Homo sapiens: one gene and its partners. The protein of the gene in region 4 interacts with the protein of the main gene of each other region in a biochemical or structural test. Each region holds a gene or a part of one and is shown on either strand. Other genes may lie near its edges. The genes, in order: FHL1, USP8, RIGI, USP15, STK33, JOSD1 and CDC73.

Region 1 (3,500 bases), on a different chromosome or scaffold from region 4:
TCTGACATTTTCAACACCCTTTGTTACTTCTATCTTCACTGGTGAGCTGTGGATTATTTTATCATCTGGATGCTTAGAACTCTGAGCAAGTCATGTTCTAGAACTATGAGACTAAACAATGAAGAACTTTGCACTGGTAATATCAAAGTACTGAAAGTGTGTGGTTTTAAAGTGTGAAAAACATGGCAGTTAAGATCTCTCAGGTACTTTGAACCATAATGCAGTTTTCCTTCTCTTCAAAACCTCTACTTCTAAATGGCATTCATTGTGTTTTCTAGTGTTTTTTCTTTGGTATGACACTAGTTAACCTGTATTTCTTACCATAAAGCTAGGACTCAAATACTAAGAGGTTTGACTCACCTTAGGTGGAACTTTATATAGTACTTTAACTTAGAAATATTTGGAATCAATTTCTGCTTATAAAGGTATCAAAAGCAAGTGATACTAAAACGAGTAGGTTCAAAGTTGTATACTAAATAGAGACCTTGGTAAGAGAGAATGAGGGATTTTCAAATATGGTCCAGAAGATAGTCTCTGAAAGGCTAAACCAGCAATGGTTACTAGCCATGCAGGAAGCCAGTGCTGTCTAATCTTACAAATTCTGTTTTCCTGCCAAATGGCATTTAGGAGCAACTGATAATTTATTTCTTGCCACTTGCCGTTACTGGAGATTTATTTGGTTTCTCAACTCAGCCCTTAACAAGAAAGCAAGTCTTTGTTGAGGGCACAATATTATCAGTATGGCAAAGCTAAGACGAGGCTTCTGTGTGACACTGGAAAGACCAACAAGAATGGATTAAAGAGAGTGATTTTCCATATGCTGTCACTGGGACAGGTACTTTTCTCTGTAGACACACAGGCTAAAAGCAGTTTAAAAGCTTCCTTACCTAAACAGTACATAGTTCAAGGAGATAGGCCCTGTGTCCATTGCGTCTCTAGTTTTTGTTTCTAACCCATTATATAAAGAAACATCCCAGTTTGCTTTTTAGAGAAAAGTTCAAGTTAGAACCATTCTCTGGTCTTGCTAAGTCTCTTAATTGTGACACAACTGTCCTAAGCAACTGTCCTTGCACAAGAATGTCACTCATCTGCTTCATCTGCCAGCTCCTTAGAGATGAGGGGGGTCTGTGTGTCAGCAGGAGGCAGAAGGCCCTGTGGCTCATCCAGTGGCCTGATTTCCTTTGTTTGGAGGCTTGGTTCTGAGTGAGAGTTCAACAGCCTTTGCCCAGGCGGCTTCTCAAACACAGGGTGTGGTTTCCTTAGCTCACTCTCTGCTGTTTGGTTGCTCATGGCAACAAGATCCAAATAACTTGGACATGTGTTTGTATAAAAAAAACCTGGGAATGGAACCCAAAGTGAGACTTTGGGGCTTTCAGTTAGTGGAAGAGCTGCGGTGAGTACCAGGCAACTGCTCATTTATTTTCTCTCATTCTTTCTCTCTAAATTACGCTGGAAGTTTGCTAGCACAATAACCATGTTTGTGGATAGTTTTAGAAAGTAGTCTCAATTCTTGTATTTCCTGCACAAATGAAATAATTGCTATCTATTTACCCGTGCAAATTTCTTTTTCGGGGGAGAGGAACAAATTAGCATATGTTTAAAGAAGTTGAAAGCTAATAGAAACTCATATTTGGTACCTTTTGGGTGGCAGGATTCTATAGGAAATGCCTTGGCAAAGGGAGCTGCAGAGTGCCTTAGTAATGCTTGGGATTGCAGGCGTGTTGTCTAGGGCCACAGCCGGGGAGGGGACCAGGGAGGGAAGAGGGGTTGTTCATACGGAGGGAGTGGAAGGGATTCTTGGAATAATTTTTTCCAGACTCTATTTTAAGATTATAATTTTTAAGACAGCAAATATCCCAAATGGTAATACTGGTTACACTTCTATGAGCATATTGATTCTCACTTGCTTGACTCAAGGGAGGGTTTGATTTTGGTCACAAAGCCACCCGTGACTATGACAGATAATTCAAGGTTGCCAAACTTGCCTGTGCCAATTGACAAAGCCATTTATATAAGTCCTCTCTTGCTATATTGCTCTGGCCTCAAAAGGCAGTAAACTCTCTTGGACAAAACTCTTTAGGATCTATTCAGGGATTTAACACTTTTCTGCTAAATTGCAAGTAAATTTAAACATTTTAAACAAATTAACAAGGATTGCTTAGGTACCTGGTGTGGTACAGAATGAGCTGTCAGTTTCTATTCTGATGAATAGAATTTTATAGATAGGAGGAACGGGAGGCCTCCAGAGGATACTACCCTCCCTAAAAAGAGACGGAGGAAGAGCTGAAAGCGGGCAGAGAGGCTTCTTGATGACAACGTGGTGGGCTTAGAGAAGCTGCTGCCTGCAGGCGGGGCCCCTGCTTTCCTGCACCCCTTTGAGCCTCTGCCCCACACTCTTCCTTTGTATAAAACAACTGCTTCTTGCCTGCCTGCCCCATCACACCCCTCCACTCCATCGGGTCACTGCTCAATGGCACAATAGCACTGCTCAGCCATACCTCCCAGCATCCTGTCCCCTATCTGGTGACTTGGCCAACACAGGCTCTGATCCACTTGCCCCGCTCCGCATCTTTTGTGAATCAGCACAGTTGATATATCTGAGCAGGGGCTTCTACCATCTCCCCAGGGAATCACTAGCCATCGGCCATCTGGCCCCGCGGGGTGCTTTTGTTCCTGGAATCATAGTGAAGTATCTGTTGTCTTGGTGCCTGGTAGTCAGCTCGGCTGAAGGGGAAGCTGGGTCTTGGTCCTCAGACCCCATGGACTCCAAGGCAGCATTGTGCAGGTGCCTCTGGGAGCCACTGCTCAGGGTGCTGGGGCATTTCCTGTGGTCATTTGTCCTGTCTGCTTGCCCCCGCAGGTCCCTCCAGCTACAAGGTGGGCACCATGGCGGAGAAGTTTGACTGCCACTACTGCAGGGATCCCTTGCAGGGGAAGAAGTATGTGCAAAAGGATGGCCACCACTGCTGCCTGAAATGCTTTGACAAGTTCTGTGCCAACACCTGTGTGGAATGCCGCAAGCCCATCGGTGCGGACTCCAAGGTAACGGGCATCCCCATGTGCCAATGGGAAGGGCTGGGTTTTGGAGTGTCCTTTGCCCACAACCATGGCAGCAGCAGCTGGCTGTTAGGATTTCCCAGCATCACTGCAGCCACCTTGAGGCCTCAAGGAAGCCTCCTCCACTCCCCAGGCCACAGTGGCCCGAGCTGTTTAATGTGGGGCTTGACTGGATGGGCGCCAGCGCCCTTGCCAGCTCTTTTGATTGCATTCTAAATATTTCAAGAATTGTGAGATTTTTATCCTCACCTCAGCGTCCCTCCTATAAGAATAGTCACTGTGGGGCAGTCCCAGGTGTAAGGGACTGTGTCATCTCAGTGGTCAGTCCCAGGGAAATCAGCCTTATGGGAGGGCTCCTGCCACCACCCCCAGCACCCCTCATGGTGGCCCACCCTGTCTGCTTGGTTTCCAGGAGGTGCACTATAAGAACCGCTTCTGGCATG
Region 2 (3,500 bases), on a different chromosome or scaffold from region 4:
GCAGCCGGGCGTGGTGGCTCAGGCCTGTAATCCTAGCACTTCGGGAGGCTGAGGCAGGTGGACTGCTTGAGGTCGGGAGTTTGAGACCAGCCTGGCCAACATGGTGAAACCTCATCTCTACTAAAAATACAAAAATTAGCCGGACGTGGTGGCGCACACCTGTAATCCCAGCTATTCAGGAGGCTGAGGCAGAAAAATCGCTTGAACCCAGGAGGTGAAGATTGCAGTGAGCGGAGTCTGGGCGACAGAGCAAGACTCTGTCTTTTAAAACAAAACAAAACAAAACAAAACAAAACAAAAAACCTTATGCTTCAAGAAGGATTGCAAGTGAAAAAAAAATAACTAAGTATATGCAAGAAAAATTAACATGCTTCTAACAACAAAAAATAAAAATTCTTAAGATGTGTAAACCTGACAAAGAACTTCAGCCTTAGTCAAACAGCAGTGCTCCAAAAGTGAAACCCAAAAGTGTTGAAAATGAGTTAACAAAGAGAAAATGCAGCCGTGCACAGTGGCTCACGCCTGTAATCCCAACACTTTGGGAGGCCAAGGCGGGCGGATCACGAGGTCAGGAGATCAAGACCATCCTGGCTAACACGGTGAAACCCCGTCTCTACTAAAAAGACAAAAAATTAGCCGGGCACGGTGGCGGGCACCTGTAGTCCCAGCTACTCAGGAGGCTGAGGCAGGAGAATGGCACGAACCTGGGAGGTGGAGCTTGCAGTGAGCTGAGATCGCGCCACTGCACTGCAGCCTGGGCAACAGAGACTCCATCTCAAAAAAAAATAAATAAATAAAGAGAAAATGTTCTTTCTCTGACATCCTTCTGCTCCTTTCTAAGACAAAGAGTAGGGATTTGATGACTGGAACCACAAAGTGAAGACTAAAAGGTAAAAAGTGAAAAATGAGGTTTGCAGTCATTCAAACTGGTCCTGATTTTAAGCAGGGATTCACACCAGCCACTCCTAAGGTCTTTGGCAATATTGAAAGGAAAGCAAAAGTTGTCTTTGTTGGTCACCCACCATCTCTCTCTATTTCTGCCCTTAGGCAGCAACAATACTCAACATAAGTATCTTCTCGCTGTCTTAAATCTCATAATCCACTCTACACTCGTTCTGTATAAGGTGCCACAAACAACTAAGTATTGATTAAATAACTTTTTTTTTTTTTGGAGACGGAGTCTCACTCTGTCGCCCAAGCTGGAGTGCAGTGGCATGAACTTGGCTCACTGCAACCTCCACTTCCCAGATTCAAGCAGCCTCAGCCTCCCAAGTAACTGAGATTACAGGCGCCCCGCCACCATGCCCCACTAATTTTTGTATTTTAGTAGAGACAGGGTTTCTCCATGTTGGCCAGGCTGGTCTCGAACTCCTGACCTCAGGTGATCCGCCCGCCTCGGCCTCCCAAAGTGGTGGGATTACAGGCGTGAGCCATCGTGCCCGGCCAATGAAATAACATTTTAAAGTAATCCTCAAGTATTAAGAAGGCTCAACCCTCTCAAGATTTAATCACTGCTAAAATGTATGGTATTTTCTGAGCAACTACTATGTCTCTAGCACTGTGCTAAATGCTTGAGGGCAGTGTTTTTAAAATCCATTAGAAGGTCATGATCAGCATTAAAAAAATAGCAAACATCAGACTATGTCACACATAGTAAGGTTAGGTACTGCTTCGTAAAATTGTTTCAGTTATGTACATGTGTATATGATATAACACTGGATGAAAATGTAAAATGTATTTCTTAATACAGGTGACAATTTTAAAAAAAGTATGAAAGTCTCACACTACAGCAATGTAACTCCAAGTATGGTCCAATGACCAGTGCTGATTGGGGAACTGTTTGTTATCAGTTTGTGATAAAATAAGAAGTTTGTGACAGAATGTAGATCAATTAAGCACACTGACCTTTTTAAAGTAGCAGCAAGACTTTCTCCATGCAAAAAGCAGTGCACTGACTGGGCGTGGTGCCTCACAGCTGTAATCCCAACACTCTGGGAGACTGAGGTGGGAGGACTGCTTGAGCCCAGGAGTTCAAGAACAGATATTTATGTTGAGTATTGTTGTTGCCTAAAGGGCAGAGATAGGGAGAAATGGTAGGTAGCCAACAAAGTGGGCAACAAAGTAAAGACAAAAAATTTTACAAAAAATTTAAAAATTAGCTGGGCGTAGTGGTGCACATCTGAGGTCTCAGCTACAAGAAGAAACAAACTTAAGTTCCATCTCTTCCATCCTTTATGGTCCCAGTTCTTGGAATTTGTTTCTTCATGTGAATCCTACAATGCTTGTGATCTATATCATTCCTTAAATACAGTAATGGGATCAACAGACAATTACTATAAGGCTTTAAAATCCTCATACACACGCAGTGCTCATGATGATGTGATGAGAGAGAGAACCTGGCCTTGAGGACAGAATTTAGCTAAGAACAGGGTAAGAAAGGAGGACATCTGGCTGGGCATGGTGGCTGACACCTGTAATCCCAGCACTTTGGGAGGCTGAGGCAGGCAGATCACCTGAGGTCAGAAGTTCAAGACCAGCCTGACCAATATGGAGAAACCCCGTCTCTACTAAAAATACCAAATTAGCTGGGCATGGTGGTGGACGCCTGTAATTCCACCTACTCAGGAGGCTGAGGCAGGAGAATCTCTTGAACCCAGGGGGCAGAGGTTGCAGTGAGCCAAGATCGCACCACTGCACTCCAGCCTGGGCAACAAGAGTGAAACTCCATCTCGGAAAAAATAGTAATAATAAGGAATATTACAGAAGTTATTGGGAAATAATCAATCGGATAGAGGGAAAATGTTGACATGTCTTTGGATCCCTGGCACCTATCTCAATAGTCCTCACATAGTCACCACTTTAATAAATGTTTCTCCCTGTCAGCTGAATTTAACTAAAAGGAAAAAAAAATGTTGACTAACAAGAATAACTAAATTATATTATGTAGGAGATGGAGTCACATTATGGAAGACTTTGGAAGCCATCCAGAATTCTTTATATTTGATTCAGCAGGCAATAAAAGCCAGTTCCTGATGGGAAAAATATTATCTCAAGATGGTCAAATTAGGGATATGTAAGTAAGATTGAAAGGAGATGAGAACAAGGGAATGATACTATGGAAAAGAGTAACTACAAGGTCACTGCAGAAAAGAACACAAAATGGTAGAAACATGCTTTGGTAACTGGTTGATCGAAACAGTATTTTCTCTTGCTTACACACACACACACACACACACACAGAGGCACACACACTGTACCCTGCAAAATATGAAGAGCAGTAGTGCTATTAACAAAAAAAGTAATACTGCAGTTTAAAACTGATCAGTTTACAGCAGCGTTTCTCAACCTTGCCATCACTCACATTTTGGACCAGATAAACATTTGTTGTGAGAGGCTGCTCTGTGCAATGTGCACTGCAGGATGTTTAGCAGCATCCCTAACCTCTACTAGACGCCAGTTTACTATCATCCTTCCCTTCCAGTTGTAACAACCAAAACTGT
Region 3 (2,697 bases), on a different chromosome or scaffold from region 4:
AAACCCCACAATAATCTGAGGCAAAGAACAGGTGGGTCTCACTTATTTTACAATTGGAGGAAAAAAAAAAATAGATTCACCCAAAGTCCAGAGGATCCATGCACCTGACTCCCCTCTACAGGCAGGGTGGGGTTGCAAGTGAGGACACTGGGCACCTCATAAAGAAGAAGATTAAGAAGGTTCCAGGTAACCCAGCTTCTGAAGGTAGATACTCATTATTCAAAAACAGAAGCGATGTTTGCTGAAAATTTGTGAAGCTGAAGTTCACCAGTGGCCCTGGCAGGCACAATCCAAAGGATACAGGGAAAACGACCAAGGTCAAGATGCAATTGAAGAAGGTCAGGGACTAATGTGTCCACAGGCCCCACCTAGAGTCAACTTTAGAGTAAACAGCTCAGAAACAAATGCAGATCCAACATACTAGTCCCTCAGGAAAACATAGGGTCTAAAAGGGCCATTTTTAGTAGAACAATCACCCAAATTGGAGCTGAAAGGACCTTTTACAGCTAAAGAAGCAGACTTAGAAAGGTAAGGGAACTTAGCAATATGACTCCTAATAGGCTTTTTGCCCAAACAGCTGAGCTGATGAGAGATTTCTGCTTTCTGAAGACGAACGGAACATCCTGAAGTAATAACTCCTCATCTGAGCCAGCCCAGCCCCTCCACTGTGCCCCCCATGCAAGAGTTATACCCCATATTTCTCTTTGGAGATTTTTCTAACCCTTTCTCTGAAAGTTTTAAGAAAGAAATATAAGGCTGCAATAGAAGGCTAATCTGCAGATGTCACATTTTACAAATAAGGAGATATTTTGTTTTCATTATAAAAGTGATCCATAGCCCAAAAGGAATGTTTGGAAAACATAAGGTAGTAGGAAAAGAGAAAAAAAGTCATGGAATCTCACCACCAAAATATTAATACATTTTGGTATAGTTCCCCTAGCCTTTGTTTTTCTGTAGCAAGGTAGGTTTTTTGACTTTTTCTCTTGACAATGACAATGAATGTATTTGCTGCTGTTGTTTCACACAGCTACAAAGTAGCATCTTTACAATTCTGTGTTCTGGTTACTTTTTTCCTTATTACCATTAGTTTGTAAGCAGTTTTTCATTATACTACATAAACTTCATAATTTTTTAAAATAAACTTTACTTTGGAACAATTTTAGATTTAAAGAAAAATTGCAAAGATATCCCAGAAAATTTCTGCATACCCTTTACCCAGTTTCCCCAAATGTTAACATCTCATATACCACAGCACATTTGTCAAAACCAAGATAATTAACATCAGTACATTACTATTATCTAAACTACAGATTTTACCACTCTTTCTCTAGTTGTATCCTTTATCTGTTCCAGGAGCTAATCCAGGACACGTCATTGCATTTAGCATGACTTTTTTTTTTTTTTTTTTGAGACAGAGTCTTGCTCTGTCACCCAGGCTGGAGCGCAGTGGCGCGATATCAGCTCACCGCAACCTCTGCCTCCCGGTTCAAGCGATTCTCCTGCCTCAGCCTCCCGAGTAACTAAGATTACAGCCACCTGCCACTACGCCCAGCTAACTTTTTTATTTTTAGTAGAGACGGGGTTTCACCATGTTGGCCGGGCTGGTCTCGAACTCCTGACCTCGTGATCGCCCACCTTGGCCTCCCAAAGTGTTTTGATTACAGGCATGAGCCACTATGCCTGGCCAAAAACTATTTCTTTATTATTGAACATTTAGTATTTTTTTTTCACTTCTTAGCTTTTTTTAAATACACAGATCATGGCCACAGTAACAATGGAAATAATAGTAGTTTTATTATAAATATTTCACCAACAGTAAGCTGTAGCTAGTGCTAAAACATGACCAGGCACTTTGTAAAAAGGCAGCTTACCTCTATCACTCTTACGTCAGCTGTGTAACATGCCAAGGCTTTGCACTTTCTGCAGAGCAGTTTTTTATTTTCCTTATCAGGTACAGGTTTTGGTTTTTCTTGACTATCTCTGATGAATTTTTCATGAGTCTGTATATGCAGAATCTAATGCAAAAAGAAAGACCGCAAATGTAATTTGAGTACAACATATATAGCAAGAAACAGGCACAGATACGTACAATACATATACATGCACGCACATGTATAATCATTCATATACAACTTCCATGAACATATGGTACCTGACTTTGTAAAATCACAGATTTTATTGGTTCTCCTAACTTAGTATTAGTCAATGCTTAATTGTGGCCTCCAATTAGTCTTTCAATTTCTTCATCAAAAATGCTCATAAAAGCACTAAAGATGTCCATAGAATAGTCATATGAACTATGCTTTCTACTTTAGTGTTTGGCAAAACTTGGGAAAAAAAACAAAACCTGTACCAGATATACAATATGCGCTGTTTCAGGCATAATTATATCCATTTGCAGGCACAAACTCAGTGAGTGATACAACAGGCAGAAGAGCCCCTGATATGGTTTGGCTGTGTCCTCACCCAAATCTCAACTTGAATTGTATCTTAACAGAATTCCCACGTGTTATGGGAGGGACCCAGGGGGAGGTAATTGAATCATGGGGGGCCAGTCTTTCCTGTGCTATTCTTATGATAGTGATTGTGTCTCACAAGACCTGATGGGTTTATCAGCGTTTCCACTTTTGCTTCTTCCTCATTTTTCTCTTGCCGCTGCCATGTAAGAAGTGCCTTCTGCCTCCCTCCGTGATTCTG
Region 4 (3,500 bases):
TATTATTTTTATTTTCAAGACATTTTCCAAATAGGTTAAACCATTACAAATTAATATACAAATAAATACTTAAAGACATAATGAGGGCTAGATTATTTCTCTTTTAGTATGCAAAAAAGACATAGGTCACAAATCTGTGCTGGAAGACAGGTATTAGAAAATCTCAAATCTGGGCTCTAATGGAATAACACCACAAAATATATCACTACATTTTTCCTAAAAAGCTTCTCTCAAAATGATTACATAGCTAAAATTTCTTGGAAAAAAGGTAACTAAAATGAATTAATAGTATAATGGCTATTATGAAAAACACAGTAATAAAATTAAGGCAACACTGTAATCGTATTTTTTAAGACATTCCCATCCCTCTTAATAGGCTACAACTTATATAAAGAATCCTTTACTATTTAAAACATCAAAGAGAATTTAGTAATTACTTTTTCAACTTGATGTGGCACATATCTCAGAATAAATCCTTAAAGAAAACAAAAACAATTATTTAATTTTGTCTCTTACCAGGGATCTTCAGCACCTAGCTTTTCTTTTGTTGTAAAAAGTTCAATGCAATCTTTTAATTTCACAAAGGGTTTTTTAGGAGGTTTATACTCCACACTTTCATGTTTTTCAAAGTCCTAAAGAGAAGTATTTCTTGAGTTAAGAGAACAAATGAAACAAAACTCATTTTAGTGATACCATCTTACTATGAATAATAATGAAAACTCCTAAACTTTCTCAAAAGAATCATAAAGCTTATTTCAGTTGAGATTTATATACTTCTAAATAATTCCTGTACACTTCTATATGGATGACCAAAACACGTTCAAAATGAACTCTGAACCTTTAAAAAAAAAAGGTATTTTTGCAAAGACTTTTTTTTCTAGTTCATGACCAATTTTTTACTGGCAAAATAAACATATTTGGTGGAAGCAAAGAGTGTAACACAACAGTATGATTATCTCTGGTAATCACATAAAGTAAATCAAGGAAAGGTAAATAAGTGAGTGAGTGATGACTTACCTCAGCAGCATTTTCATCAAAATATCTTTTTTTCAAATCAGGATCCCAATCCAAAGCAAGAAAAGATCTTTCTAAGGTGGAAAACATATTTTTTCTTTAAAATTTAATATGTCTTAGTATTAAAGTATATTTTAATGTTAGGATATACACCAGAATAAACAAACAGCAATCTTTTCTACTTGTACTGGTGATTAGGGCAAACAGCAGTTTCCAAGCCATTGAAATAATTTAAGAGTTTAAAAAAAGATAGAAAACTGAAGCATGAGTTCAATCTCCATTTATGAAACACAAACACACATTTTAGTCTACTTAGATATTAAGTCCTTTCATGTAAAATTTGAGATAGAAAAGTAAATGGTATATTTCTTGACAGAGCTGAATTTCATGGTTTTCACCTAAAAAAAAAATAACATGCTCGGCTTGTTTAATGTTCAAGCCATTTTTCACAAATACTTACCATCTAGCCTAAGCTGCCTATCATCAAATCTTATATGCCTGGTATCATCTTTGATGTAGTTGATATCAGTATTGCCTAAGTTGTTGAACTGGAATGTAAACAATCGTTTTTTGTGTCCCGTGAGTTGACCTTTGCAAGTATCCTCAGTACATAATCCATTTTCAGAATCATTATCTCCTCCAACTGAATCTTCAGACTGACTGTTTTCATTCTCTGAGGGAAGTTCTTGATCCTGGCTGGATTCATCATCTGGCTCATCTGTTTCCATTTCACCTAATTTTAGATATTAGAGAGCTTTAAATAAACCCAATGCTATATTTTTAAATTATTAATATTATTAATCCTAGGTTTCCAGGTATTTTTTAGTTCTTTAATTCCCATTTTCTTAACTTTTTCTCTGAGGCAATTATCTAAGTGAAACATTTGTACAATTTAACAGAAAAGTCTTACTTGGTGAGCCTTCTTCATGTATGCCATTTGGGCCATTCCCATTAATATTTTGGTCCTTACAGCAGTGTAGGGATCCTTCAGTTTCTTCAGTTTCAGTAGATATTTTGACATATCGGCTTAAGTAAAATCAAAAATCAAACAAGTTCAGTACTACAAAGATAAAAACTTTTAAAAAGTTTTCCTTCTATCAGTAAAACAAAACTTTTTAATGCAGTAACAGTGGTCACTTAGTAGATTCAAAGATAAATTCAAACTTTTAGTACCATAAGTATAACTGACTAGTAATTTGTTTTGCTCATCTTTATAAAAATAATTAATATGTTACCTTTTAGGTTAAATGTTAAATGTTTGTTGCAAATAATTTCTCAACTTACCCTATTTAGATGGTATATATTGTTGCTAAAAACACTTATATTTGTATAATGTGATCTTTATATATGGGTTATGAAACTATAATAATTAGATATGCAAGAAAGAATACTAAATATACCAGCTTTCAAGGATAAAAGGGATCAAATGACATTCTTGATAACTTCATAATTCAAATCAAGGGATTTATTCAGGAAGGCAAAAAATAGGCTGCCTTACAATACTATTAATCATGAACTGGTAATGTATATAAAGAAATGAAGCATTTGACATTTGTTATTTCACAGTGCAAACATATGGCATTTGACATTTGTTATGATTTCACAGAATGAACATGTAACACATAATTATTATAACATAAATTCCTATGTCCTTCTAACTGTAAACTTTTGGTTTAAAACTGCTACAGACTTCGTGCTTCCTGGGTTTGAAATTACCTCCATAATATGTTTTACATGAATAAGAAAGTGGATTAGGACTATAATCTGACTATGAACAAAATTGAGATAATACAGACTTGAATAATTATATTCCAATAGTACCTTATGTGTTTATTTTTATTAGCTATTTTATATTTTATTCCCATATTTATTTTGTCAATGTAGAATTGTCTGGCACTTACCACATTCTCAAGAGCAGGAGATTATAAAGTTTGTCTTCAGTATTGTTTCGTGGTACAGCCATAAGAAAGGGCTGACCAAAAAGTGAAGAACCAGTATGGTGGGTATAACTCGAGTGTCTGAATTTTTCTCTTAGGCAAACAGGAATAATCACGTGCTCTGTATCTTCTGTCCTATTGATGTTAATTTCAAACCTACAAGGACAAAACTGACCATAAACTCTCAAAATTTTATGTTACTTCTATTAATTTTTTTTCAAGTAATATTTTGCACAATGAGTTTTATACTTACACATAAATATCATCCCGTTCCATAATACTACTAAGGTTTTCATCCATAGCGAATATTCTGTGAAATCTATGATTGTATATATCAGTAACTATCATCTAAAAGGAAACGAATTTCTATTAAGCTGGTTTTACAGCACTGAGAAACTAAATACCAACTTATATACTTCAACCCCAGAAACATCTTACCTTATCTGCAGGTATTCCTGACAAAGCAGACAATGCTGTACAAAGATCTAATATGTTTCCAATTTTGGGGACAACCACTTTGTACTAAAAAACAAAAAAAATTGTAATGAA
Region 5 (3,500 bases), on a different chromosome or scaffold from region 4:
GATGTTGGCCAGGATGGTCTCGATCTGACCTTGTGATCCACCCGCCTCAGCCTGCCAAAGTGCTGGGATTACAGGCGTGAGCCACCGCACCCGGCCTCTGTTCTCGCTTTTAACTGTCAGTATAGGGGCCACATTTAAGACTGTCCTTCCGTATTACTGCTTAATCAGTGAGGAACATCATGCAAATTAAAATAGAAAGGAAAAGTTAATAGTAAACATCACTCAAACATTTAAAAAAATTCTGAAATAATGTGAATTTTAAATATACTGTAAATCCTTTTATAAGACAATACAGACTCATTTTCCTAATCATGCCCTTAATGAAAAGAATAAACAAGTGCTAGTCTTCCTTAAAATATAGCAATATCATCTAGAAAACTCACTGGGCCCTTCTTTAGGCTTTGTAAACATGTTACTAAAGCAGTCAGTCATTTGGCTTGGTCTGCAGAATGTCAGACAATTCGTAAGTTTTTTTTTTTTTCCCCTTTACTTGAATAAAACACATTTTGACTGAATTGACTATTTAGGTTTCTTGTAGACACAGTCTTAGCAAAGAAAACTAAAAAAATTGCTTTTGGAGAAGAAAATTATAGCTAGTTATATCTTATAAAACCATTCTTGTGTTCATTTTCTTGAGGAAATTGCTGTAAGTGTATCTTCTAGGGCCAATATGTAAAAGACCTTTTTATGATTAAATTAAAGCCCAGGGATTTTCATTATCAGAATTGTTTTATTGACTTGCCTTAGTTCTAAAAATAAAATGAAAACCTTAAGCCAAAGGAAGGCTCATGTATTAGTTAAGTACTGACATAATTTGAACTTATTTTATTTGCTTATATTATGTCCAGTACCTATGTATGTCCAATCTTTGGAGACACAAAGAAACATTATTGTATTAGAAGATTCTTTGGTTTTTGTAATACATATTTTTATATCTAAAGTCCTGTTTAAACATAATTCCATGATTCTATAGAAAAAGAGCTATTAATCTTTGTGTTTACATAAGTTTGCAATACTTGATTAATTTTAAGCCTCTAAAATATGAGTGACATCATTTGTCCTGTGAAATAGTAGATTTGTTTTAGTAACAAATCTTTCAGATCAATTCGTAAATGAGAAAGAAATAAATGTGAGTAAACATTTGTTCTATCTTGGTTTTTGTTTAAACTAAAATAATTAGAATTCAGCCAGCCAAAAAGAAGTTAAATTTGAAATCTAATTCTTGTCAAGAAATTTTGCATGCAGCTATTCAACCTGTTGTTTTAGAATTGCTGTGGTAAGAAAGTAGAACATTATTTTGGCAAATATAGCACTTGGTAGACTGGAGAGCAAAAATGAAACTTCTCAGTGAGTAATAGAAAGAAATCCTATGCTTTATGCATATAGCTACCAAGTACTTCTAAGGCAACTGATAAATTAGAAGACTGGAGCGAGAAAGTACTCAGAAGTCTGTGACAATGTCAGTGATATGATAATGACTTATTGAAAAATTGATGAAAATTAAAGGAAATGCTTTCTGAACAAAGCTAAGAAAAGAATAGCTGTTTTTAGATCCCCCAAAATCTATCTTAAAATGAAAATTTTAATATTTAAAGATTCCATTGAAAATTTGTGAATATATATATTTGTAAACCTTGAAGGATATGGTAAGTATGCTTTTAGGAGTACTGTTTATCATGAAAGAACTCAGCTGCAGTTAAATAAACCTGTACGTTACGAATACTTCTTACAATTTCTTATAAAAAGTACCATAAAATCAATATTCTTAATGTATGCAAAAAATGATGTTTTACACATCTGACATGGGACTTCTCTACACCTCAGAGAGAAAGCACTATTTTTCCCAAACAGAAAGCCTATCATTTGCAGATCTACTCCACTGCTCTGAGTCATTGATGGTTATGGGTTTTATATTTAACCTGAAATGCAAAACATTTTCTTCTAGGCCTGAAGTTAAATCATTTTGGAAAGTGATACAGGTACATTCTGAATTTTCTTTGTCTTGCTACATATTCTTGAAAAACCAGGTTAAGTGTTTATAAGAGATGTGTATGTGTGTGTGTGTGTGTGTGTGTGTGTGTGTGTGTGTATTTTGAGTGGCATCAGTTGCATTCTTTTCTTCCTCTGCCTGTCTGGAGGGCACTTTTAATGTACCTGTCCTCATACTCTCCATTATGAGTTTTAATCACAATAGAAATTTTTTTCCCACCACTTTGATGAAAGGTCATATTTATTGGGCAGACTTATCTATTCTATTTAATAATCTTATAATATACTATATACATTACCTGGGGTAAATGTAAGTACAGCATTTAGGATTTTAAAATCTATTTACAAATGAGACTGACCTGTAAATCCCCCTTTTGGGGAATACTACTATGGTCAGATTTTGGTTATTTTAAGTGAATAAAATGAACCGGATGGCTTTGCATGCTCTGAAACCATTTATATAAGAATCATCTGTTCAATAAAAGTAGGAGAGGACTCTGCTATGAAACTTCCTGAGTGAAATGATAAGTGGCATGAAGAAAAACAAAGCAAGGTAAGGGGGGAGAGGGCATGGGCTTGTTGTTTTAGATGAGGTGGTTAGGAAAGCCTTTCAAATGAGCAGAAGCCACAGTGAAGCATGGGAGCAGACCGTGTGAATGTTTGAGGGAAGAGCATCCCAGGCAGAGGAAGCAGAAGGGCAAAGCCTTGAGAAGGGAGTATACTTGGCATATTAGAGGAGCAGCAAGAGGCTACTGTATCTGAGAGAAAGGAGATATGAAAGCTGAGAGGTAGTGAAGAGTACGTTTATTTGGGACCGTATAGGCAAAATTCAACAAAATTTCTTTGTCATTTCTGTTTCTTAAGCTTACTCTTTAATTATGTTTTTCTATCTTTTAGATTTGACTGCACACTTAGTATATTTTTATCCTTTCTCCTCTGATTTTAATAAAGGTTTAAGAATATAAATTTTCTTTTAAGTGCAGCTTTGCCTGCATTCTGTTAAGCTTAATGGCCATAAGTCACATGGCTACCCCTAATCTAAAAGAGAAGCCCGGAAATGTAGGATGTTAATGAGCACATTGCTGCCCCAAAGAAGATCAGGATTCTGTTAGTAAGAAAGAATGAGAGGACAACTTTTAGGTAAACTACTAGCAATATCTTTTATAAAATCGTATGAGCCTGGCAGATTTTCCTGCCAATCACAATAGATAAGGATTTGATAAAAGCACAGCTTTCTGATTAGAAAACCAGGTATTTCTTTAATGAAATAAATATATTTAATTTCCTATTCTAGTCAAGTTTATTCCAGTTCAAAGGATAACAGTATATTGCATATATCCCCAGGTTTATCAATCTATGACTACAGAATCTACTTTTAAAGACTGTCTGAAATGGTATAGCATAAAACCATAATAATGTACTCCCAATTACTTCTGGAAGTTTCTCAAAGTACTCCTTTATATGTACTGCAGAGTGTATTTTTCTTCCTCCTCAACTGAGATCTTTCCAAC
Region 6 (3,500 bases), on a different chromosome or scaffold from region 4:
TAGGAGGCAGAGGCTGCAGTGAGCCGAACATAGGAGGCAGAGGCTGGATGTCACCACTGCATCCAGCCTGGGTGACAGAGTGAGACTCCGTCTCAAAAAACAAACCAACAAACAAAACAAAACAAAACCCCATGCTCCTGGCCGGGAGTGGTGGCTCACACCTGCAATCCCAGCACTTTGGGAGGCCAAGGTGGGAGTATCGCTTGAGCCTGGGAGTTAGAGACCAGCTTGGGCAACATGGCAAAACACTGTCTCTGCAAAAAATACAAAAATTAGGCGGGCATGGTGGCATGTGCCTATGGTCCCAGCTACTCGGGAGGCTGAGGTGGGAAGATCACCTGAGCCAGGGAAGTCAAGGCTGTGGTGAGCCATGACTGCACTCCAGCCTGGGTGATAGAGTAAGACCCTGTCTCAAAAAAAAAGAAAAAAAAAAAAAACCCACAGAATTAAAAACAACAAACATACTCCTGCCACTGCTTAAAACCTTCTGATGGCACCTAAAGCACTTAAATACACTCTAAACTACTTCCTTTGGCATGCAAGGCCCTCAAGGTCCTGCAGATCTCATCTCTTACCTTTTATTACACTGACCTTCTTACTGTTCCCTAAAAACAAAGCTCTTTTTCTCACTGTGCACTCATGCACTCACTGTTCCCGCTGTCTAGAATGTTCTTTCTGTAGTTCCTTATTGTTTGGGTGTCAAATGTTACTGCCATAGAGAGGCCTTTTCTTTTTCTTTTTTTGAGACAGAGTCTGGCTCTGTCGCCCAGGCTGGAGTGCAATGGAGTGATCTCAGCTTACTACAACCTCCGGAGAGGCCTTTTCTTGACCACCCAACCATAAGTTTCTCCCAGTCACTACCTCACATCAACCTTTTGATTTAATTACAGCCCTGTCACTACCAGATGTGTTTCTCATTGGTCTGTTTTTCTACACTAGACTGACAGCAGGGGCCTTGACTATCTGTGAACGCTACACTGCTAGGGGCCTAAAGAGTGCCTGGCACAAGACAGGTGCTCAAGGAATGTTTGCTGAAATGTTCAGTGTTTATTTTTGTTGTCCTTCTCTTTCCCTGTAAACATCAGTAACTGACTCTTAAAAGGGCTTATATGCTCATCTCCAGGGCTAGCAAAGAAATCTGCAACCAAACTTTATCTTACCTGTAATAATAACTATAACTTATTGAAAAATCTCTGTGCCAAGCACTATGATAAGGTACTTTAATTTGCATTTCATTTAATCTTCACAATAAACCTATGAGGATATGAATTATTTCTATTGTATAGGTCCATAAAACTGAGGTTTGGTGGTTTTAACTGACCTGCCCATGAGCACTTGCAAGTGACAGAACTAGGATTCCACTGTGGATTCATTTGAATCCAAAGTTATGCTTGCTGTCTTACAGCAAGGACCCAAGAATCAGAGTGGCAGGGGATGGGGGCTTGAAAAGAAGAGAGGCCAGCTACATCCCTGAGGACTAGGGATGAAACATAGCTTAAAAAGACAAAGGCTCTCCATGGGTACTCACACGTTTGGATTAAATGAGAACACACTGCCAGGTGCAGTGGCTCACGCCTGTTATCCCAGCACTTTGGGAGGCCGAGGTGGGAGGATCACTTGAGGCCAGGAGTTTGAGACCAGCTTGGCCAACATAGTGAAACCCCATCTCTACTAAAAATACAAAAAAATTAGCCAGGTGTGGTGGCAGGTGCCTGTAATCCCAGCTACTCGGGAGGCTGAGGCAGGAGGATCGCTTGAACCCGGGAGGCAGAGGTTGCAGTGAGCCAAGATCATGACATTGTACTCCAGCCTGGGCAACAAGAGCAAAACTCTGTCTCAAAAAAAAAAAAAAAAAAAAAAAAGAAAGAAAAAAAGAGAACAGAACACATATGAAAGAAGGCCTAGCCCCTGATATAATTGGTTCCTTTCCCAAGTTTCTTGTTCCTTTCACTGAAGTCTCTGACCAGTACATGAATGAAGGCTCCAACAAGGAAAATGCTGAGTCTTCCACCTCATTCACCATCTAACTCCCTACCAGGCTCAAACCTTAGAGCGGCGCTTCCCAAGGGTGCTCCTGGAGATGCCATTTCCATGTTCATTAACAGAGGATCCCAGAAGGCATCCAATACAATAACAGCTGAATGAACCAAGTAGGTAAATGGGTTTCCTGCAGAATTCTTGGAGTCCCTAACATGCTAATCTTCACTTTGAATCTCAAGGAAAGGGGATTATAAAATATGCTTCAGTTCCCAAACAAATTTGACCACACATTTGTTTTGAGGTGTACCTTACAGAACTAGCTTTCCAATGATCTTTCTTCCCTGTCCTTCATCTTCTGTCTTGGATTCAAATCCTTTCCTATTACCACTCCATCTCTCTCCTAACCAGAGGCTCCTTACCTCACACCTTGACTTCTGAAACAGATTCCTAAAAATTGATCACTTTGCTTCCAAGCGCTCCTTCCACCAATTCAGCCTCTATGTTCCTGCCAAATTCACCAAGGCATCAATTCACTTCCCTTTGTATATATAGGAACTGACAATGGTACCAACTGCCTGGTTGGCCAGTTCTACACTTCCTGGCCCCACTTGGCCAGCTATATCCCTCTCACTGGGCTTAGTGCACTTTAGGCACCATGATCATATGGCCTTTATTCTATTTTTTCTTCCTCTGTCACCTAGGCTGGATTACAGTGGTATGATTGTGGCTCACTGTAGCCCCAAACTCCTGGGCTCAACTGATTCTCCTGTCTCAGCCTCCCTCTTGAGCCACTGTGCCCAGCAGCCTCTATTCTTTTATCCTATTTCCTGTTCCAAGCCAAATCCTACAGCTCCTTCACACCCTATCTCTTCCATAGGATCTTCCCTGGATCCTCTGTAAAAAAGGGAGGGAGAGTGAGGACCATACATATCTGAGTTCATATCCTAGCACCGATCAACACTAACTGTGGGATTTAATCTCCATGCCTGTTACCTTGCCTGTAAAAATGGAAATAATTACTATTTTATAGGACTGTTGGAGAATTCAGTTATTTCATATATGTTCAATCAAACACTAAATCCCTGGATAGTTTTTTACTCTATATCCCTCACAGCTAGGCACTGGCAACTCAATAAACACGTTAGGCAATTTGAATACAGGAAATATTGAGTAGCTTCCATCTCATGCTAGAGGAATGGTCATTTGAATAAGTGGGGCCCACCCAGCGTATTCACCACACCAGCACTTGCTTGTACTTTTAACAGTAATCAAGTGGCCACTGTGTTAGCTGCTTTTATGGGCTTTATCACTTCCAGCCATCTTGAGATACCATAAACATGGAAGCTGAGGTGCAAAGGTTATGGTGACTTGCACAGTCAGGCACAGCTGGTGAGTGGCAGGGCTAGGGTCAGCCTCTACCCTAAGACAATACTGAAGAGTGCTCTGGATATTTCAACACACCAGTCCCACTGAGTTCCATGGGATCCTGATGATTCCAGTGGAAAGTATTCTTGAGACTC
Region 7 (3,500 bases), on a different chromosome or scaffold from region 4:
GAGTTCGAGACCAGCCTGAGCAACATGGAAAAACTCCAACTCTACAAAAATATAAAAGTTAGCCAGGCATGGTGGCAAGCGCCTGCAGTCCCAGCTATACTCCCAGCTACTCAGGAGGCTGAAGGAGGAAGACAACTTGAGCCCGGGAGGGTAAGGCTGTGGCAAGCCAAGATCCTGCCACTGCACTCCAGCCTGGGTGACAGAGCAAGACTCTGTCTCAAAAAAAAATAAAAAATAAAAATAAACCAGTCTATATGGAATATCATAAACAGTTAAAAGATTTGAGTTAATTTTAAGTTACTGTTTCTAAGTCTAATAACTTACATCATCATTTGGTCACTACTGAGTTATGTACACATCACAATCCACTGAAAAAGATTACATCTACTCACACTAAAATAGGAACTAAGGATCAGGAATCTGTTTTCAGAGTGGTCTGCTCAGCCGGACGCAGTGGCTCACGCCTGTAATCCCAACACTTTGGGAGGTCGAGGCGGGCGGATCGCGAGGTCAGGAAATCAAGACCAACCTGGCTAACGTGGTGAACCCCCGTCTCTACTAAAAATACAAAAATTAGCCAGGCATGGTGGCGTGTGCCTGTAATTCTAGCTACTTGGGAGGCTGAGGCAGGAGAATCCCTTGAACCCAGGAGGCGGAGGTTGCAGTGAGCCGAGATCACGCCACTGCACTCAAAAAAAAAAAAAAAAAAAATGAGTGGTCTGCGCACAGGAAAGAGCAAATAACACAAAGTAATTAGGAGACAACAATCTCGAATTCATAGAATTTTGGAATTTTAGAATCCTACTCTTTCAATCTGGCAAATACTTATGAAAAATGAGTTAAATCTTATGCAACCAAGGGTCCCAAGGTCCACAGTAACAATTACAGCTATCAGTTATATGCACAACCATTTCCCAAAAACAGAATCTATAAATCTAAGCCAACTATCTGAATCTTTGTTACACTAAAATGAATATATCCAACAAAACACTGTAAGAACTACCTAATTTAGTTTTTAAAGATCTGAGTTAAAATAACCTTAAAGACGGAGCTGGTGCTATTTTTTTCCCCTTATTTTCCCAAGTAGTCCCACTCTAATTTTATTTTTTTAAATATGTAACATAAATATATATTTCTTACTCAGGAAAGCAGAAGCCTTATGGTTTAATACAAAGCCCACTAAGTGACGGGATACTTTCTCAATTGCTATAATCACACACACACACACACACACACACACATTTTTTTTTTTTCCCTGAGACAGAGTCTTTGCTCTATCACCCAGGATAGATGCATTGGTGTGATCATGGCTTACTGCAGCCTCAACCTCCTGGGCCCAAGTGATCCTCCCACCTCAGCCCCTTGAGTAGCCAGCTGGGAGTATAGGTGCACACTACCACGCCTGACTAATTTTTTTTATTTTTTGTTTTAACAAAGTTTCCCTATGTTGCCCAGGTTGGTCTTGAACTCCTGAGCTCAAGTGATCCTCCCACTTGAGCTCAGCCTCCCAAAGTGCTGGGACTACAGGCATGCACCACCACACCTGGCTTTTAGTTGCTTTAGACAACAAGTTATTGTTTGAAAGATACATAAGCCAGAAACCTTAACTATTTCTAGTTGGGAGGGAGGTTAGAGTTATAGAAGTTAAGTTTCACACAGCTTAATGTGATCCAGCAACGGTGTTAGGTAACTCAAAAAGCAGCTCCAGTGATGACAGACACAGTGATATTTTAAAAAATTGTTTTAAGAACTATAAGAAAAGTTTAAGAAGATTGTTTTAAGAACTATAAGAAATGGGAAAAAGTAGTTATTTATAAATACATTTCATACTTAATTTTAAGTGTATACTTGTAAGCAAAAGCAACAAATATTAAAAGCAGACATTTAATTATTTCAATTATATCTTCAAAAAATTTTATGTTCAACTCTACCAAAAATAATCTGAGGGAAAAGCTCATTTAAAAAAATTAAATATCTTTTAGGCCATTTTATGTGGGCATTATAGTACTTTTCCATGTCATACAGCTATCCTATCCAAATAACTCTGAATCTTATTTACTTATCAATTATAATATACTGCTATAATTTAGGTCTTAATGATACTTCCCTACAGATGAAGAATCTCATCATCATAGTTTATGAAATTAGTTCTTTTCAAGTTGTTTCCAAATATTTCCTCTGAGTAATAAATTTTCAAACACTGAGAAAGCAAGCAAAACTAAAAACAAATGAACTTCTCCAGAGTACTAAAACAGCTGCACAAAACTGATTAAGAAACAATTTTTTTAAATGTCTGCTAATCTTAATCCTTACAACCAAAAAAAGTTTTCTTGAGATTAAACTAGAGTTCTGAAGTAACAGGGTCCTTCCACAGGCTTACAAGTTTTTCTAAACATCTCTATAAATACTTTTAGCGTTTCGGGTTTTCTTTTTCTTGAGATGGCATCTCACTATGTTGCCCAGGCTGGTCTTGATCTCCTAGGCTCAAGCAACCCTACCGCCTTAGAGTCCCAAGTAGCTGGGATTACCAGCGTGCACTAAGAAGCCTGGCTCTATAAATCCCTTTAAAACTTCCTTTGTTATAAACATTACCCACACTTTACATGAAAAAATATCACAGATTAAAAAGTCTGTGTAAGTCACACAGTCACCTAATTTTGACTCTCCTGGAGACACTCATACAAACCTTTCATTCTTTTGATTTGAAACCCATGAGGGAAGCTATCCATTCCAAATGATACCTACTACCACGAAGCCAAAAAAAAAAAAAATGTGTTAATACAAAAATTAGCCCGGCATGGTGGGCCATGCCTATAGTCCCAGTTTCTCAGGAGACTGAGGTGGGAGGCTGGCTTGAGCCCGAGAAGTAGAGGGTACAGTAAGCCGAGATCACACCACTGCACTCCAGCTTAGGCAACAGAGCCAGATCCTATCTCAAAAAAAAAAAAAAAGTTTTAAAATGAATTATTGGCCAGGCACAGTGATTCATGCCAGTAATCCCAGCACTTCGGGAGGCCGAGGCAGGAGGATCCACTGAGGGTAGGAGTTCAAGACCAGCCTAGGCAACACAGCAAGACCCCCTCATCTTTAACAACAACAAAAAAAATTAGCCAGATACGGTGGCACAGGCCTGCAGTCCTGGCTACTTGAAGGCAGAGGTGGGAAGATCACTTGAGCCTAGGAGTTCGAGGCTGCAATGAGCTATGATCACACCACTGCACCCTAGCCCGGGCAACAAGGCCAGACCCTGTCTCTTAAATAAATAAAAATAAAACTGATAAATAGATAGATAAGTAAAATGAATTCTACTTACAGCTGCACGTCGGACATAAACAGGATGAGAAAGGTGCACGTTATTAAGTAGAAATAAAATGGAATCCAATGTGTAGTACTCTCTGGGTTGGCCTTCCTTTCCAGTCCTGAAATAATTAAGGCAAGATTTTTTTTACTGACAATTCTAATTCAACTCTTCAGGCTGGATTCATTTATATAAACAACTT

What was found.
Region 1: the proteins of USP15 (region 4) and FHL1 form a complex in vitro, tested with the Homo sapiens proteins (one study listed by BioGRID).
Region 2: of the proteins of USP15 (region 4) and USP8, one has a biochemical effect on the other in vitro, tested with the Homo sapiens proteins (one large-scale study listed by BioGRID).
Region 3: the proteins of USP15 (region 4) and RIGI form a complex in vitro, tested with the Homo sapiens proteins (one study listed by BioGRID).
Region 5: the proteins of USP15 (region 4) and STK33 form a complex in vitro, tested with the Homo sapiens proteins (one study listed by BioGRID).
Region 6: of the proteins of USP15 (region 4) and JOSD1, one has a biochemical effect on the other in vitro, tested with the Homo sapiens proteins (one large-scale study listed by BioGRID).
Region 7: the proteins of USP15 (region 4) and CDC73 form a complex in vitro, tested with the Homo sapiens proteins (one study listed by BioGRID).

The regions. Positions count from the first base shown.
Region 1 is NC_000023.11:136,203,547-136,207,046, forward strand, and holds part of FHL1 (four and a half LIM domains protein 1), read left to right. Parts: intron 1-1,355; exon of another isoform or gene 1,356-1,393; intron 1,394-2,860; coding exon 2,861-3,042; intron 3,043-3,469; coding exon 3,470-3,500.
Region 2 is NC_000015.10:50,430,905-50,434,404, reverse strand, and holds part of USP8 (ubiquitin carboxyl-terminal hydrolase 8), read right to left. Parts: intron 1-3,500. UniProt on the Homo sapiens protein: Hydrolase that can remove conjugated ubiquitin from proteins and therefore plays an important regulatory role at the level of protein turnover by preventing degradation. Converts both 'Lys-48' an 'Lys-63'-linked ubiquitin chains.
Region 3 is NC_000009.12:32,457,500-32,460,196, forward strand, and holds part of RIGI (antiviral innate immune response receptor RIG-I), read right to left. Parts: exon of another isoform or gene 2,016-2,697; coding exon 1,872-2,015; exon of another isoform or gene 1,543-1,871; intron 1-1,542.
Region 4 is NC_000012.12:62,389,404-62,392,903, reverse strand, and holds part of USP15 (ubiquitin carboxyl-terminal hydrolase 15), read right to left. Parts: intron 3,474-3,500; coding exon 3,390-3,473; intron 3,300-3,389; coding exon 3,205-3,299; intron 3,122-3,204; exon of another isoform or gene 3,108-3,121; coding exon 2,916-3,107; intron 2,041-2,915; coding exon 1,925-2,040; intron 1,748-1,924; coding exon 1,475-1,747; intron 1,089-1,474; coding exon 1,018-1,088; intron 649-1,017; exon of another isoform or gene 633-648; coding exon 517-632; intron 1-516. UniProt on the Homo sapiens protein: Hydrolase that removes conjugated ubiquitin from target proteins and regulates various pathways such as the TGF-beta receptor signaling, NF-kappa-B and RNF41/NRDP1-PRKN pathways.
Region 5 is NC_000011.10:8,475,729-8,479,228, reverse strand, and holds part of STK33 (serine/threonine-protein kinase 33), read left to right. Parts: exon of another isoform or gene 1-1,945; 5' UTR 1,946-1,979; exon of another isoform or gene 1,980-2,477; 5' UTR 2,478-2,542; intron 2,543-2,556; exon of another isoform or gene 2,557-3,129; intron 3,130-3,500. UniProt on the Homo sapiens protein: Serine/threonine protein kinase required for spermatid differentiation and male fertility. Promotes sperm flagella assembly during spermatogenesis by mediating phosphorylation of fibrous sheath proteins AKAP3 and AKAP4.
Region 6 is NC_000022.11:38,690,944-38,694,443, forward strand, and holds part of JOSD1 (josephin-1), read right to left. Parts: intron 1-3,500.
Region 7 is NC_000001.11:193,125,031-193,128,530, reverse strand, and holds part of CDC73 (parafibromin), read right to left. Parts: intron 3,420-3,500; coding exon 3,314-3,419; intron 1-3,313.